4 linked regions of the Homo sapiens genome follow. The protein of the gene in region 1 purifies or fractionates together with the protein of each later gene. This does not show direct contact. Each region holds a gene or a part of one and is shown on either strand. Other genes may lie near its edges.

Region 1 (3,505 bases):
AATCCTAGCACTTTGGGAGGCCGAGGCGGGCGGATCACGAGGTCGGGAGATCGAGACCATCCTGGCTAACACGGTGAAACTCCATCTATACTAAAAATACAAAAAAAATTAGCTGGGCGTGGTGGCGGGCGCCTGTAGTCCCAGCTACTCGGGAGGCTGAGGCAGGAGAATAGCGTGAACCCGGGAGGCAGAACTTGCAGTGAGCCGATTTTGCGCCACTGCACTCCAGCCTGGGTGACAGAGTGAGACTCCATCTCAAGAAAAAAAAAAAAAAAAGGAAAGTTAATCAGTAACTGCACATTTTAAGGGGATTATCTATTTTCTATTTCTACTCCTTACTCAGTAGAGTGCTGCATTCAGTTTAAGTGTATACACTCACTCAGTGCAATCAAGTCTTGTTTTACAAATATTAATACAAAAGCTGCAGAGCATTTTAGTCTTGACCTTTATTGGAAGCCTCCAAAGGTTATATTTCGACCCAGCCAAAATATAACCTATTTATATTATAGGTTTTATATATATATGATATATAAATATATTATATTATATATATATATTATATTTTATATATAAATATATATTATATTTTATATATATATTATATTTTATATATAAATATATATTATAGTTTATATAATATATAAATATATATTATAGTTTATATAATATATAAAATATATTATAGTTTATATAATATATAAAATATATTATAGTTTATATAATATATACATATATATTATAGTTTATATAATATATACATATATATTATAGTTTATATAATATATACATATATATTATAGTTTATATAATATATAAACATATATTATAGTTTATATAATATATAAACATATATTATAGTTTATATAATATATACATATATATTATAGTTTATATAATATATACATATATATTATAGTTTATATAATATATAAACATATATTATAGTTTATATAATATATAAACATATATTATAGTTTATATAATATATAAACATATATTATAGTTTATATAATATATAAACATATATTATAGTTTATATAATATATAAACATATATTATAGTTTATATAATATATAAACATATATTATAGTTTATATAATATATAAACATATATTATAGTTTATATAATATATAAACATATATTATAGTTTATATAATATATAAACATATATTATAGTTTATATAATATATAAACATATATTATAGTTTATATAATATATAAACTTATAGTTTATATAATATATAAACTTATAGTTTATATAATATATAAACATATAGTTTATATAATATATAAACATATATTATATTATAGTTTATATAATATATAAATATATATTATATTATAGTTTATATATATATGAGATATATAAATATATAATACATTGTCAGTCATCCTGTTTTATTTAAAAGATCAAGTTCTGGAAAAGAAATGAAGAATTTTTTTTCAGTGTCTGTCAAAGGGGACATGAAGAAAATTGTTAGTGGAGGTTAATCCATATCTATATAATTTAGCTGTAATTTCTACGTCAAAGTTAACCTTCAGTCACTAATTTGGATCCTTTTGTGCTTACATAGTCACCTTTAGGCTAACTATAACAAGATTCTAGGAGTTCCTGATGCTTTTTTTTTTTTTTTAACTCTTCGGTTCCAATACCTAAAGTTATACACATGTGTTACACAGCTTGTCTGGTTAAATTAAGTGGGTATGGAATGTTAAAAATAATGGTAGGGAATAAATGAATTACTTAAGACTTGTTTATTCCATGCATAGATTAGTGAGAACAATTCAGAAGGCATACTTTGTAGCCCCTCCAGAGCAGAAACTTCTTTATTTGACGACTAGAATAGAAATATCTTTCTAACAGGTCTTAAGGATTAAAGTTGATTTTTATGGCTTTTAAAATGTTTGGAAAATGCTAACCATTTAACTTTGTATAACAGTAGTATTTTCTATGTGTCTTAAGTAGAGTGTGCAGTATTTGTATAGTCAAAGATAAGTTCTGTGACAGTAGAAAGATGAACAAGTCTCATTAAAGAAGGAATAGATTAGAAAGCATAAAAATGTTGCAGTTTTTCTACTGTGCCTTGTTTTTATATTGACCATCTGAAAATTAAATTATAGTTTTACTTTAATTGTCCACTTAAAACTTTGTAGCTTTGCAGTACTGCTGTTTCTTTTCTGGAATGCTGTTCTCCCTTGTCCTTCCCTAGGTACTTTGTTTTTAGATGTTAAGTTTTTATGATTATGATTATTATTATTTTTTTTTTGGAGACAGGGTCTCACTTTGTCATCCAGGCTGGAGTGCAGTGGCACGAACACAGCTCACGGCAGTCTCGACTTCCCTGGCTCAGGTGATCCTTCCACCTCAGTCTCCCAAGTAGCTGGGACTACAGGTGTGCACCACCATGCCCAGCTACTTTTTGTATTTTTTGTAGAGATGGGGTTTCACCATGTGTCCTGAACTGAGGTGATCCTTCCTCCTCAGCCCCGCAAAGTATTGGGATTACAGGTTTGAGACACTACGCCTGGCCACATATTAGGTCTTAATGCGTCTAAGCATCACTTCCCCGGGAAAGCCTTTCCTGATGTCCCCGCCCCTGTTTCAGGGTCACATTACACACCCCGACTGCCATTTTATATTTGTTTCTATAACTGATGGCTGGCTCCTTTGAATGCTGTCAGCCTCAAGAAGCTGAGACTGTTTGTGATCACTTTTGTATCTTCAATGACAAGTTTAAAAGAGCAAAAATATATTCTAGTGAGATAAGTGACTCGATTATTGAAGTAGAAAACTATTAATCCCCAGCTGTAAGCTTTTGTTCTTTTAATCATGTGTTTTAGTGTATTTGTTAAAAGTGTATACAGGTACAACACAAAATTTACATCTGCAGCTTAGGTATTGGCAATTATATTTTTTAAAACATAATCAATTTTACTAATGATTACATGAGAAATTGCCTGATGTTTTAAGGTAGTTGGAACAAGCTTCATATTTCTGAGACTTTAAAGAGTTGTCTTTAACCTACAAGTTGTCAGAATTGTCTTTAATTTCCAAATGTATTGGGTTTTTCTCTTTCTTGTTGGTGATTTCTAACTTGATTGCATTGTGATCAGGGAGCCTAATTAAAATCAATACTGTACCTGGAAATTTGTTGAGGCTAACTTTATTCCCAGCATACAGTCAGCTTTTATGTTTCACCTGTGCACAAAAAGAGTATACATATTATTGATGTGTGTGTCTATTCTGTATGCTCTATGTCCACTAGACTTACTGTGCTGTTTATATGTATATCCTTACTAATTGTGTTCCTCTATTTGATCTGTTGTATCTAACTGATCCTCTGTCTACTTGATGGTGATGCTAAAATGGTGAATTTAAAAATTTTCTCTACATTTACAATTAGTATTATTTTCTAGGTGAATTGAAGTTTTTATCATTATGAAGTGAACCTCTTTACCTCTGGTAATGCATTTTTTCTTAAAGACTATATTTCTAATGTTAAT
Region 2 (3,505 bases), on another chromosome or scaffold:
GCTCTGGATCATTGATGGTGTGGTCTGACAGCTTGAAGATAGGGACAGCAGCATCACTGGGGGTCAAGGCTTCCCTGGCCTTCAGGTGAGGGGATCTGGGTGGCCAGGATCCGGGGCTTTAGCCGGCGGGGGAGGTGGTGGACGCATCTGTAGGGAACACACAGTTAGTGCTCCAGAGTTCTCCCTTAAGGGTATCCCTGTCTATTCCCTCAGCCCTGCAGACAAAACAGGACTGGTTGGAATAACCCCTCTACATACAATCTCCTCCAAGGCAAGGGCCCTTACCGGCCTGAGTCGAGGTGCCATCATGTCCAGGAACCCAGGGAAGTCCAGGGCTTTGTCTGGAAATAAGAACCACAAGTCAGTCTTCAGACTTTGTTTTGTTCAATGCTGTATCTCCAGCACTTAGGACAGTGGCATTCTATAAATATTTGTTAAATTAATGGTCACCATCCTAGACCATAAAATCCATCACTCTATCCACTGTCCTCAACATTTATTGGGCAACTGCTGTATAATCAGCTCTGCTCAAGGTACAAAACTAAGGGAGATAGGATGCATAGTGCTCCCACCCCCAATGGCTGTCAAGAAACCAATAATGAAACCTCAACAAACACAATAAATGACTAAGTGCTAAGTCATGCAAAGTGAACTTGGGGTGGTGGAGATGGTGGTAACTCCAGGGAGGGAGACTCCTTGTGGACAAGGTGGAAGTACCAGAAAGTTTTAGAAAAGGCAGGCATTCCACAGCCATAAAAAAGAATGAAATCATGTCCTCTGCAGCAACATGAATGGAGTTGGATGCCATTATCCTAAGTGAACTAACTCAGAAACAGAAAACCAAATATTGCATGTTCTCACTTATAAGTGGGAGCTAAACAACGGGTACACATGGACATAGAGATGGAAATAACAGACTCCCAGGACTCCAAAGGGGGCAAAGGTAGGAGTAGAGGCAGGGGCGAGGGTTGAAAAATTACCTATCAGGTACAATGTTCACTATTTGAGTTACAGGTACACTAGAAGCCCAATCTCCACCAGTATGCAATATATCCATATGACAAACAAGCACATGTACCTCCTGAATCTAAAATAAATAATAAAATAAAACTGCTATAGACATTTAAAAAAGAAAAAAAGTGGGCATCAGAAAAAATAATGATACAAAGCTAGGTATCTGGACACTAGGAGCAAAAGGTGCATATTGGGAGGACACCGTGAGAGAAGTTAGCTAATTTTTAAAATAATAACAGTGACTGCATACTTACTGTGTGCCAGGCACAATGCTGTGTAGTCCACAGGCATCTTTTTTAACTCTCATAAGAATTCAATAAGCTAGTACCTTTTCCTTACCTCATAAAGAACATAAACTGAGGCCAAGACAGGTTCAGAATCCCACCACACACTTGGAGATGACAGAGCGGGACCTGAACCAGTCAGCCTGGCTCCAGAGCCCAGGCAAGTGCTCTCCACCAAGCAAGATGCCTGAAGGCACGGAGAGGACCAGAGCGTGACCTGGGAGTCCAAGCTTCCTCCTTCTTCCTGTCTGTTAGCCTCCCAAGGCTCCCAGTTCCTTCCACTCACCCCCAGGCAGGACAGGTGCAGGGGGCCCATCCAACACAGAGGTAGGTGCAGGTGGGGAGAAGCTGGGAGGAGAAGGGGACGGCAGCATCTGGAGGTGGGGTGGGCACAGAGTTATTCCTGGCATGTGGGGAGGTTTTACCAGCTTTTCCTCTCATCCCATCTCCAGTTCCTTCCTCATCACTTCTCAATACAGGAAGTGGCCAAATGCTTGCATTCGGTGGGGGGGTGTAGCTGACAAATATTTCAACAGCCAATATGTATTGAACGCTTATGTTTACTATGTCTCAAGTGTTCTGCTAGCACTTCACGTGTACCAATTCATTCAATCCTCACCACTACCCCATGAGGTAGGCATTTTTAATAATATGACTCCTATGTTAGAAGTGAGACCCAGGTTAAGCCAGCTGTCCAAAATCACGAAGCCAGTTATTGGCAGAGTGCTGGCTAGAACCCAGTTCTCCTGATGCCCACTCCTATTCTCTTTCTGCTGTATGTATATACATTATAACAACAGATATCTTATATTGAAACACCTTCTGCATTCCACTGCACTAAAGGCTTTGCCTCGGCGGGGCGCAGTGGCTCATGCCTATAATCCCAGCACATTGGGAGGCCAAGGCAGGTGGATCACCTGAGGTCAGGAGTTTGAGACCAGCCTGACCAAATGGAGAAACCCTGTATCTACTAAAAATAGAAAATTAGCCGGGCGTGGCAGCACGTGCCTGTAATCCCAGCTACTCGAGGGGCTGATACAGGAGAATCGTTTGAACCCGGGAGGCAGAGGTTGCGGTGAGCTGAGATCGCACCATTGCACTCCAGCCTGGGCAACAAGAGCGAAACTCTGTCTCAAAAAAAAAAAAAAGAAGAAGGCTTTACCTCGATTATCTCTAATTATGACAGTGAGCCTGCTAAAGTAGGTATTATCCCCATTTTACATGTGAAGAAACAAGCTCAGAGAGGTTAAATCATTGCCCAAGTCATACAATAGAAATTTGAACTCAGATCTATCCAGCACTAAAGTAGGACCCCCCAAACTCCTATGAAGGCTGCCTTGGTTTCCCTTTTCCCTGCCCCCCCATAGGAGATGGGAGGCCCAGGCCACTGTAGGAGGTAAAACTGGGGAGCAGAGGAGGCATTAAGATGAATATGAGGCTTTATTGGGGTGGGAGGGTCAACCCAGAGGTGCCTGGGGAGTTCAGGGAGAAGGTAAGCCTCACCTGTTCAGGGTCAGAGAGTTCAGGTGGCCCTGGGGGGCCAAGCAGCTCTTCCACCAGCAGGGAGGGGAAGACCCCAACACGGCCCCCAAATTCTCCCCTCCAGAAGCCGTCATCTACTCCATCTTGGGCCCGGGGCAGCAGACGGATGAGTGCCCCCTCAGGGAAGCTCAGCTCCTCTGCACTCTGTCCGGTGTAGCTGTACAGGGCCTGTGCCAGGAATGCTACAGAGGCCCAGGAGAGACGGTGAGAGGGAGGTGGGTAGCAGTGCCCCAGGACCATGACACCCCAGGGCTACAACCCCTAACAATTTTTCTCCATACCCAGGGTCCTCTAACCCAAAATTTCCCTTTCTTACCTGTGGGCTCTGCCCCGCAGGGATTGTCACTGTCTTGGCTGCTCTCTGGGAGGGAGAGGTCCGGGAAGTTGAGATATCGCTCAGGGACAAAGCCTACCTCGCCGTGCTGGTTCCGAGCCTGCTCACCCAGCAATGTGAACAGATATTAGACTTACCTCAGCAGTCCATGACCCTGGCTCTCTTCTACTCAGGCTTCTAGCTTTGCCTAGAAGGGTCTATGGAGGCCACAGAGAAGTCCCTCCTACTGCCCCCAACCCAAGGTCAGAGCCCGGGGTCCCATACCCACCTTGACCCATTCGTCAGCATCTCCCTCCTCTATGACCTCCAGCCACTCACCCTCCGTGATTGT
Region 3 (3,505 bases), on another chromosome or scaffold:
GACGTCTGGTGTCTTGGTGCCCCCAGGTGAGGGGAGGGACTTACCACAGGTGACCACGATGGCCCACCTGTCTAGCCCCTGCCCACCTGTCTCCCCTGGTACCTGGTGGAGCTTGGCCAGCACTGGCCCCGTCTTCTCCTTTTCCTCATACTTCTCCACCTTGGCCTGCAGCCTCCTGTAGTCCTGCAAGGCCTGTTCCCGCCTCTTCACAGCCATGTTGAGGCTCGGGAAGACACTGCCGAACCTGTGGGACAAGCTGGCTGGAGATGGGCCCGTTCTTGAAGGGGTGGCCTGGCTGGAGATGGGTCTGCTCTTGGAGGGGTGGCCTGGCTGGAGATGGGTCCGCTCTTGGAGGGGCGTCCTGGCCAGCACTCACTTGTCCAAAAATGTGCCCTGAGCACCTACCAAGCGCCAGACCCTGCTCTAGGTCTTGGGGAGTTCACTGTGAACAAGACAGATGAGGCCCTGTCCCCTGGAGCTTGTGCGAACGTGGACAATGTCATGGGGTGAGGGCAGATGAGAGGAGGTGGGGTTGTGGGCCAGGTCCAGGGAGCTGGGTGGCACAGGGTGGCCCAGGAATGAAGGGTGCCCTGACCCCCACCTCCTGTGAGCTTTATCACACAACGGACTAGGGGATGGTGGGGAAGGTGCCTTGAAGTCATCTGGCCAACACCTCACTTTTAAAAAGGAGGGAAACTGAGGACAGAGAGAGATGACCTATGACTCATCCAAAGTCACGATGAGGCAGAGAAGGTCTAGAAGAGAACACAGGTGTCCACATTCTCTGTCTGGCACCCTTTCCAGCCCTCACAGTGCCACTGGCAGGTGGCAGAACTGAAATCTAAACTCACCCCTGCCCCAGGGCACCTTCTCCTTCAAGGGCTCCTTGGCAACATGAAAGCAGCAGAAATCCTCTGGCTCTGCCATTGGAACCGCCAAAGTTCCAACCAGCTGCTTCAGGAAAATGCCCTGAGGACCTCCACTGTGACTAGAAGGGACCGCGTGGGAGACTCAGAGGAGTGGCCCTCAGAGAGAGCAGCAGTGGACGATGCAACGCTGCAGGTCCACACCGGCCTCGTCTTTGTGGATCATGTGTCCTCTAGTGACCAGGAGCAGTGCTCTCCTGAGGCTCTCGCTGCTGCTGCTGGAGGGCTGGCCCTCGGTGCAATGGCAGGGGGCGTCTACCAGGCAAGCCAGAGCCCTGCAGTGTCCAGGATCAGGCTGCGCAGCCCAGGGAGCTCATGACTCTGTGGCCATTCGGAGGTGACCCAGGACCAGAAGAGTTGGTTCCTCCTGGACATTTTTATGAGGAACCCAGAGAGGAGGAAAGACGAGGGCAGGAAGCAGTTACTGAGACTGGGATCATAGGCACTCAGAGTTGAGAGGATGCTGGCAGACTCACTGTCAGGTTCCAGGAGCTCAGCTACCACACAGAGCAGGACTCCCAGATGTGCCTCTCAAAGGACATGACCAGGAATTTGGTTTTGAGACAGAGTCTTGCTCTCTCACCCAGGCTGGAGTACAGTGGTATGATCTCTGCTCACTGCAGCCTCCACCTCCTGGGTTCCAGCAATTCTCATGCCTCAGCCTCCCGAAGAGCTAGGATTACAGACGTGTGCCACTACGCCCAGCTAATTTTCGTATTTTTAGTGGAGACGGGGTTTCACCATGTTGGCCAGGCTGGTCTTGAACTCCTGACCTTGAGTAATCCACCCGCCTCAGCCTCCCAAAGTGCTGGGATTACAGGCGTAAGCCACCGTGGCCGGCCTGTTTTTAAAAAGCCTCAGCAAATCAAGTGTACATTTGAGGTAAGAGTAATGAACAGTTTTGCCAGGGAGTAAGAGGATATTAACTTTACCAAAGCATTAAATGCCCCCAAACTAAGTCAGACCCAGGGAGTAGATTTTGATGAAACAAAGGGCTTATCCCCAAGACAGGAATCCTCTACCTCAACAGTGTCCATAAGGGGCTCCCTGTCTTAACAAGGTGCTAAGTGGGTGAAGCCACCAAAGCACCCTGAATGCTCACCCGTGCCCTTAGACATAGTAATCAAACCAGCATCTGACCGACTTGCCGGGCAGAAGCCATGGGCCTCCCAGGACTGTGCACAGAGAACGCGGGCCCCTCAGCACTACGGAACTGAGGGTGGGAAGCAGACACCACCAGGATGCATAGTCGCCCATGGCGTGGGCTGGGGTGAGACTGCTGGGAGGAGCTAGACTTGATGCTTTGCCCAGGGCGGCTGCGTGGTGGAGCTGCAGCTGCTGGGGAGCCCTGCCCCCTTCCTGGGCAGCTGAGAGGCACGTGTTCAGGCAGCAGGTGCAGCTGGGCCTGAGAGGCTACCAGGCCACCTCTCCCTCAGCCCCAAATGGCCAAGGGACCACCGGCAGCTACCCTGGTCCTCGCCCTGATCCTTGTGTTAGAAGCCACCTGCTGCTTGGATGGTCCCAGTGCCTGGGCCTTGTGGGTGCCTGGGAGCTGCCGGGTAGGTGCAGGCGCTGGGACAGGGCAAGGATGAGGCAGGCAGGAGGCAGCAGGTGGAGAGCTCTCTGGCCCTGGCCCCAATCCCACCACCCTGAGCTCACATCCTCAGGAAGGAGGGCATCACAGCGTGAAGCCGTGTGTGCGCAAGGTGGCTTCCACGGTGCAGGATGGGAGGAGCCCTATGCTCGTTGCTCCAGCAGCCTGACCCCCCAACATCCCCTGAGGCACTCTCATAGCCCCCTTCCCACAGCTGTCGGCTGGGGCTTATTATTTCCTGTGCCAGAGTCAGAGCCACCAGGAGCGCTGACTACAGCGGAGTGCCGAGCGGGGGTGAGGGAGGCCGGGTTACAGAGCTCCTCGGGGGATGGCGTGGTGGTGTCTCCAGGTGGCCACCTGGCTGCATGGGCTCCTGCCAGCCCCCTGGAACCAAGACCACCTGCCTCTGCAGGCCGCCTGCCCCAGTGGGAAGAGCATGTCTTCACCATGAAAACCTCCGTTTCCCATGACAGCACCCCTTAGCCACCAAGAGGCTCTGCCTGCTCAGGCCACTGGAGGTGATTGCTGATAAATTACAACCACGGTGGGGGGAGGTTGGGTCCTGGGATTGGGATTCCCTAGGGGTAGGGACAAGTGTCACACCTTTCTACATTCAGTGGGAACTCACATCAGTCAGGGCAGGGCGCAGCTTGTGCCAAGGTGGCTGAAGAGTAGTGGACCAGGACTCTGTCACATCTGCCCTGGTCACTCACTGACCCTTTGAGGCCCCATCTCCCCGTTTTCTACTTCTTAGCAACAGAACAGACTTTGCCAAAGCCCCGGGGTGGACAGTGGATGTGCCACGGTGCTGTGTGGGATCTCAGGTCAGGGCTCAGGCTGCTGGCAGGGGAGGTGGAGACGTGCACAGGCTGGGCGCCTGTGCCAGCCCCTCCCAGATATGTCCCTGGGACCCCACAGAGGCCCTGCTGACTCTACCCAACCACACTGGGGGAGCCTGTCCCCAGGCGTGAAGCCAGGACCCAGG
Region 4 (3,505 bases), on another chromosome or scaffold:
GAAAAATAAATAAATACATAAAAATAAAAAATAAAAATGAGCAAAAAATCTGAATAGACATTTCTCAAAAAAAGTCATATAAATGGCAAGCAGGCATATAAAAAGGTGCTCAATATCATTGACCATCAGAGAAACATAAATCAAAACTATAATTAGATAGCATGTCATCCCAGGTCAAATGACTTTTATCCAAAAGACAGGTGATATGTTTGGCTCTGTGTCCCCACTCAAATCTCATCATCTCAAATTGTAATCCCCATATATCGGGGGAGGGTCCCTGTGGGAGGTGACTGGATTATAGGAGCGATTTCCCTGATGCTGTTCTCATGATTGTGACTGAGTTCTCACGATATCTGATGGTTTAAAAGTGGCACTTCCCCCTTCGCTTCCTCTCTCCTACCCCCATGTCAAGAAGGTACTTGATTCTCCTTTGCCTTCTACCATGATTGTAAGTTTCCTGAGGCCTCCCCAGCCATGCGGAACTGAGTCAATTAACCCTTTCTTCTTCATAAATTACCCAGTCTCAGGTAGCTCTTTCTTTTTTTTTTTTTTTTTTTTGAGATGAAGTCTCACTCTGTCACCCAGGCTGGAGTGCAGTGGTGCGATCTCAGCTCACTGCAACCTCCACCTCTCAGGTTCAAGCGATTCTCGTGCCTCAGCCTCCCTGAGTAGCTGGGACTACAAGTGCATGCCTCCACACACAGCTAATTTTTTGTATTTTTAGTAGAGATGGATTTTCACCATGTTGGCAGGCTGGTCTCAAACTCCTGACCTCAGGTGATCTGCCCACCTCGGCCTCCCAAGGTGCTGGGATTATGGGTGTAAGTCACCATGCCCGGCCACAGGTAGTTCTTTAAAGCAGTGTGAAAACGAACTAATACAACAGGCAATAAAAAATGCTGGTAAGGATGTGGAGAAAACAGAACTCTCATACATTAAAACTACTATGAAAAAATTAAAAGTCCAATAAAAGAAACTGTAAAGTTGAAGAAGTCTCCCAAAAAGTACAACATAATGACAAAGATGGAAAATAAGAAAGAAATGAAATTTAAAGAAGCAAGCTAGGAGATATCATATCTTAATAATGGGAAGTTCCAGAAAGAGAAAACAAAAGGGAAGAATTAATCCAAGAAATCAAAGGGTACACTGAGAATATTCCATAAACTTCTAAAAAAAGAAAAAACAAACAATTAGATCAGATACAAATAATCAAGAACTAGGATGGCTTTGGATTCTCAATACTTACACAGTAAAGAAGAAAACAATGAGGTATGGACTCCAATGTTTCAATGAAAGAGTTTTCAACCTTTAATTCTATATCCAAGTACAAGCAAATAATATGCCATTTTCATAAACATAGTATCTCAAAAAACTTACTTCCCATGCCCACTTTCGCAAGAAGGTACTGGAGGATGTGCTCTACCAAAGGACAGTATAAATCAAGAAAAAAATAAGACATATCATAAAGAAAACTGGAGATCTAACACAACAAAGACATATAGGAAGATCTCAGGATAAATACTTGCATCTGACACAGAGGGCAACTAGTCCAGATTAGAAGAATGTAACTCAAAAGACAGTCATAATGAGGGTTGTTATCACCAAGATAACTGCTAATGTAAGAACAGAATGTCCAGGAAATACGAAAAGAACATAAAATAATTGTTTTGTTCCCTAAGAAGGCAGGAGGGGATGAGATATAATCCAAAGCTGAGGTGAAAAGATCACCTTTAGACAGGAACAACTGCTACTGAGACTCTGGAAGAGTCTTCAACACAGATGAAGTGGACAATATTGAAGCTGTCTTCCAACGGTTTCTATCGTCTCTGTAAATTAGGAAGAAAACCCACTTGCTAAGCATAAAAGAGAAGGGGTAAGTTTGAGGTTTGAAGAGGGGGGAAAAGTTGAAATAACTGTTAAAAATAGTAGGAAAAGTTAACTAGGGAAAAGACAGTAGGCCATCTAAGCAGTGTTGAAACTGCTGCACTGGTTTCTCTATTAATTTATGATCATGAATCTGCTCCGTCGAAACTTTTCTTCAGCAGTACTTGGCTGCTTAGATACAGATTATCCAGTTATGGGGGCTCATCAGAGTTACAATTTCATTTCATTTGAAGAAGGGCAAAGATAAGAATATAAGTTAGAGTATTATTTAAATAATGAGCTATGAACTTTAACGAGGATAACAAAGAAAATGAGAAAGGATAACATGTATTAAATGGTTAGGATAATGCCAAGGCAATATTAAGCAATAAAAAAGATAGCTATTATTATTACTAACCACAGTCCTCCAGCAGTAAGTGATTTCCATCACTCTAATTTGCAATCATGTATATATGTATGTGTATGTGTGTGTGTGTATATATATATATATATATATAATGTATGTATGTATATATATGTATGTGTATATATATGTATATATGTGTGTGTATATATATGTGTATGTATATATATACATCTCACTCTCTTCTACCATATTGAGCTCTTTGAGGATAAGTAGTATGTCTTACTCATCTGTCTCTTCCCAAAGCCTAACTCAGTAGTTAGCATGCTGTAAGAGGCTCTTAAATGTGTATGATTAAACCAACAAATCAAATACCCTGCTTTTAAGCTACCCATATAGGGCATTATCACCTTAACATTAATTCAGAAAAATAGATATTTCCTTAACATTAATTCAGAAAAACAGATATTTTCAAGAAAGGCATCTAAGGGCCACTGACAATTCAATGGTGGAAATTTACTAAGTAGCTAACAGCATGATTGATAGGAGTTTTCCTGTACTGCAGACTATAGAATTAGCATGAGGAAGAAAATGAGTTAATGTACAGTACATGAAAACTGAAAGTATGTTTTCTCATTTTTAAGGGGCAGGAGGGACCAACCCCTGCCTCTATTTTTAATCAGTTTAGTACCCCACAATGTTTCATTAAATGAATACTCCAAAGCATGACCTACCCAATGCTGATCAAATATATGCATAAAGACTTCAAAGTAAGTTCGAGAACATATATTAATCTGTGAGCTGGCCAGGCCCTTTAACTTCCTCTTTGCTTTAGGCAGAGAGCAGATCCCCCAAATAAGAATGTACTTTCTCTGGTTTATTGAAGGCCATCTTTTTTAGCTGTAGATCCAATAGAAAAAAAATAGGATTTTATTTTTGCTGTTGCTTAAGTTAATATAATGTTCATTTAAAAATATTCATAGGGAAAAATATACAGCTTTGATATAATAGTAGACATATATAGAATATAGTGAATTACAACCTTAAGTGCGAGCTGTGCTAAAAATCATCTTTAGTAAATGTGTTCTTTGAAACTGTTGGTCCTTGTAAGTCTGAAGCACTATGTAATACCTAATACGATACTAAAACCAGCCAGGCCCAGTAGCTCACCCCTATAATCCCAGCATTTTGGGAGGCTGAGGTGGGAGGATCTCTTAAGCCCAGGAGTTAAAGAATAGCCTGGGCAACAAAGTGAGACCACGCCTCTGCGAAAATAAA

Evidence for each region. Proteins that work in one complex are often made in the same cells at the same time.
Region 2: the proteins of SNX9 (region 1) and FCHSD1 purify together in Homo sapiens (co-immunoprecipitation; 3 studies listed by BioGRID and IntAct, with this or other methods). This does not show direct contact.
Region 3: the proteins of SNX9 (region 1) and BIN3 purify together in Homo sapiens (co-immunoprecipitation; one large-scale study listed by IntAct). This does not show direct contact.
Region 4: the proteins of SNX9 (region 1) and FCHSD2 purify together in Homo sapiens (co-immunoprecipitation; one large-scale study listed by IntAct). This does not show direct contact.

The regions. Positions count from the first base shown.
Region 1 is NC_000006.12:157,826,243-157,829,747, forward strand, and holds part of SNX9 (sorting nexin-9), read left to right. Parts: intron 1-3,505. UniProt on the Homo sapiens protein: Involved in endocytosis and intracellular vesicle trafficking, both during interphase and at the end of mitosis. Required for efficient progress through mitosis and cytokinesis. Required for normal formation of the cleavage furrow at the end of mitosis.
Region 2 is NC_000005.10:141,641,417-141,644,921, forward strand, and holds part of FCHSD1 (F-BAR and double SH3 domains protein 1), read right to left. Parts: coding exon 3,443-3,505; intron 3,275-3,442; coding exon 3,157-3,274; intron 3,023-3,156; coding exon 2,802-3,022; intron 1,673-2,801; coding exon 1,585-1,672; intron 342-1,584; coding exon 286-341; intron 148-285; coding exon 82-147; 3' UTR 1-81.
Region 3 is NC_000008.11:22,624,120-22,627,624, forward strand, and holds part of BIN3 (bridging integrator 3), read right to left. Parts: intron 1,294-3,505; coding exon of another isoform or gene 1,182-1,293; exon of another isoform or gene 251-1,181; intron 245-250; coding exon 103-244; intron 1-102. UniProt on the Homo sapiens protein: Involved in cytokinesis and septation where it has a role in the localization of F-actin.
Region 4 is NC_000011.10:72,978,317-72,981,821, forward strand, and holds part of FCHSD2 (F-BAR and double SH3 domains protein 2), read right to left. Parts: intron 1-3,505. UniProt on the Homo sapiens protein: Adapter protein that plays a role in endocytosis via clathrin-coated pits. Contributes to the internalization of cell surface receptors, such as integrin ITGB1 and transferrin receptor.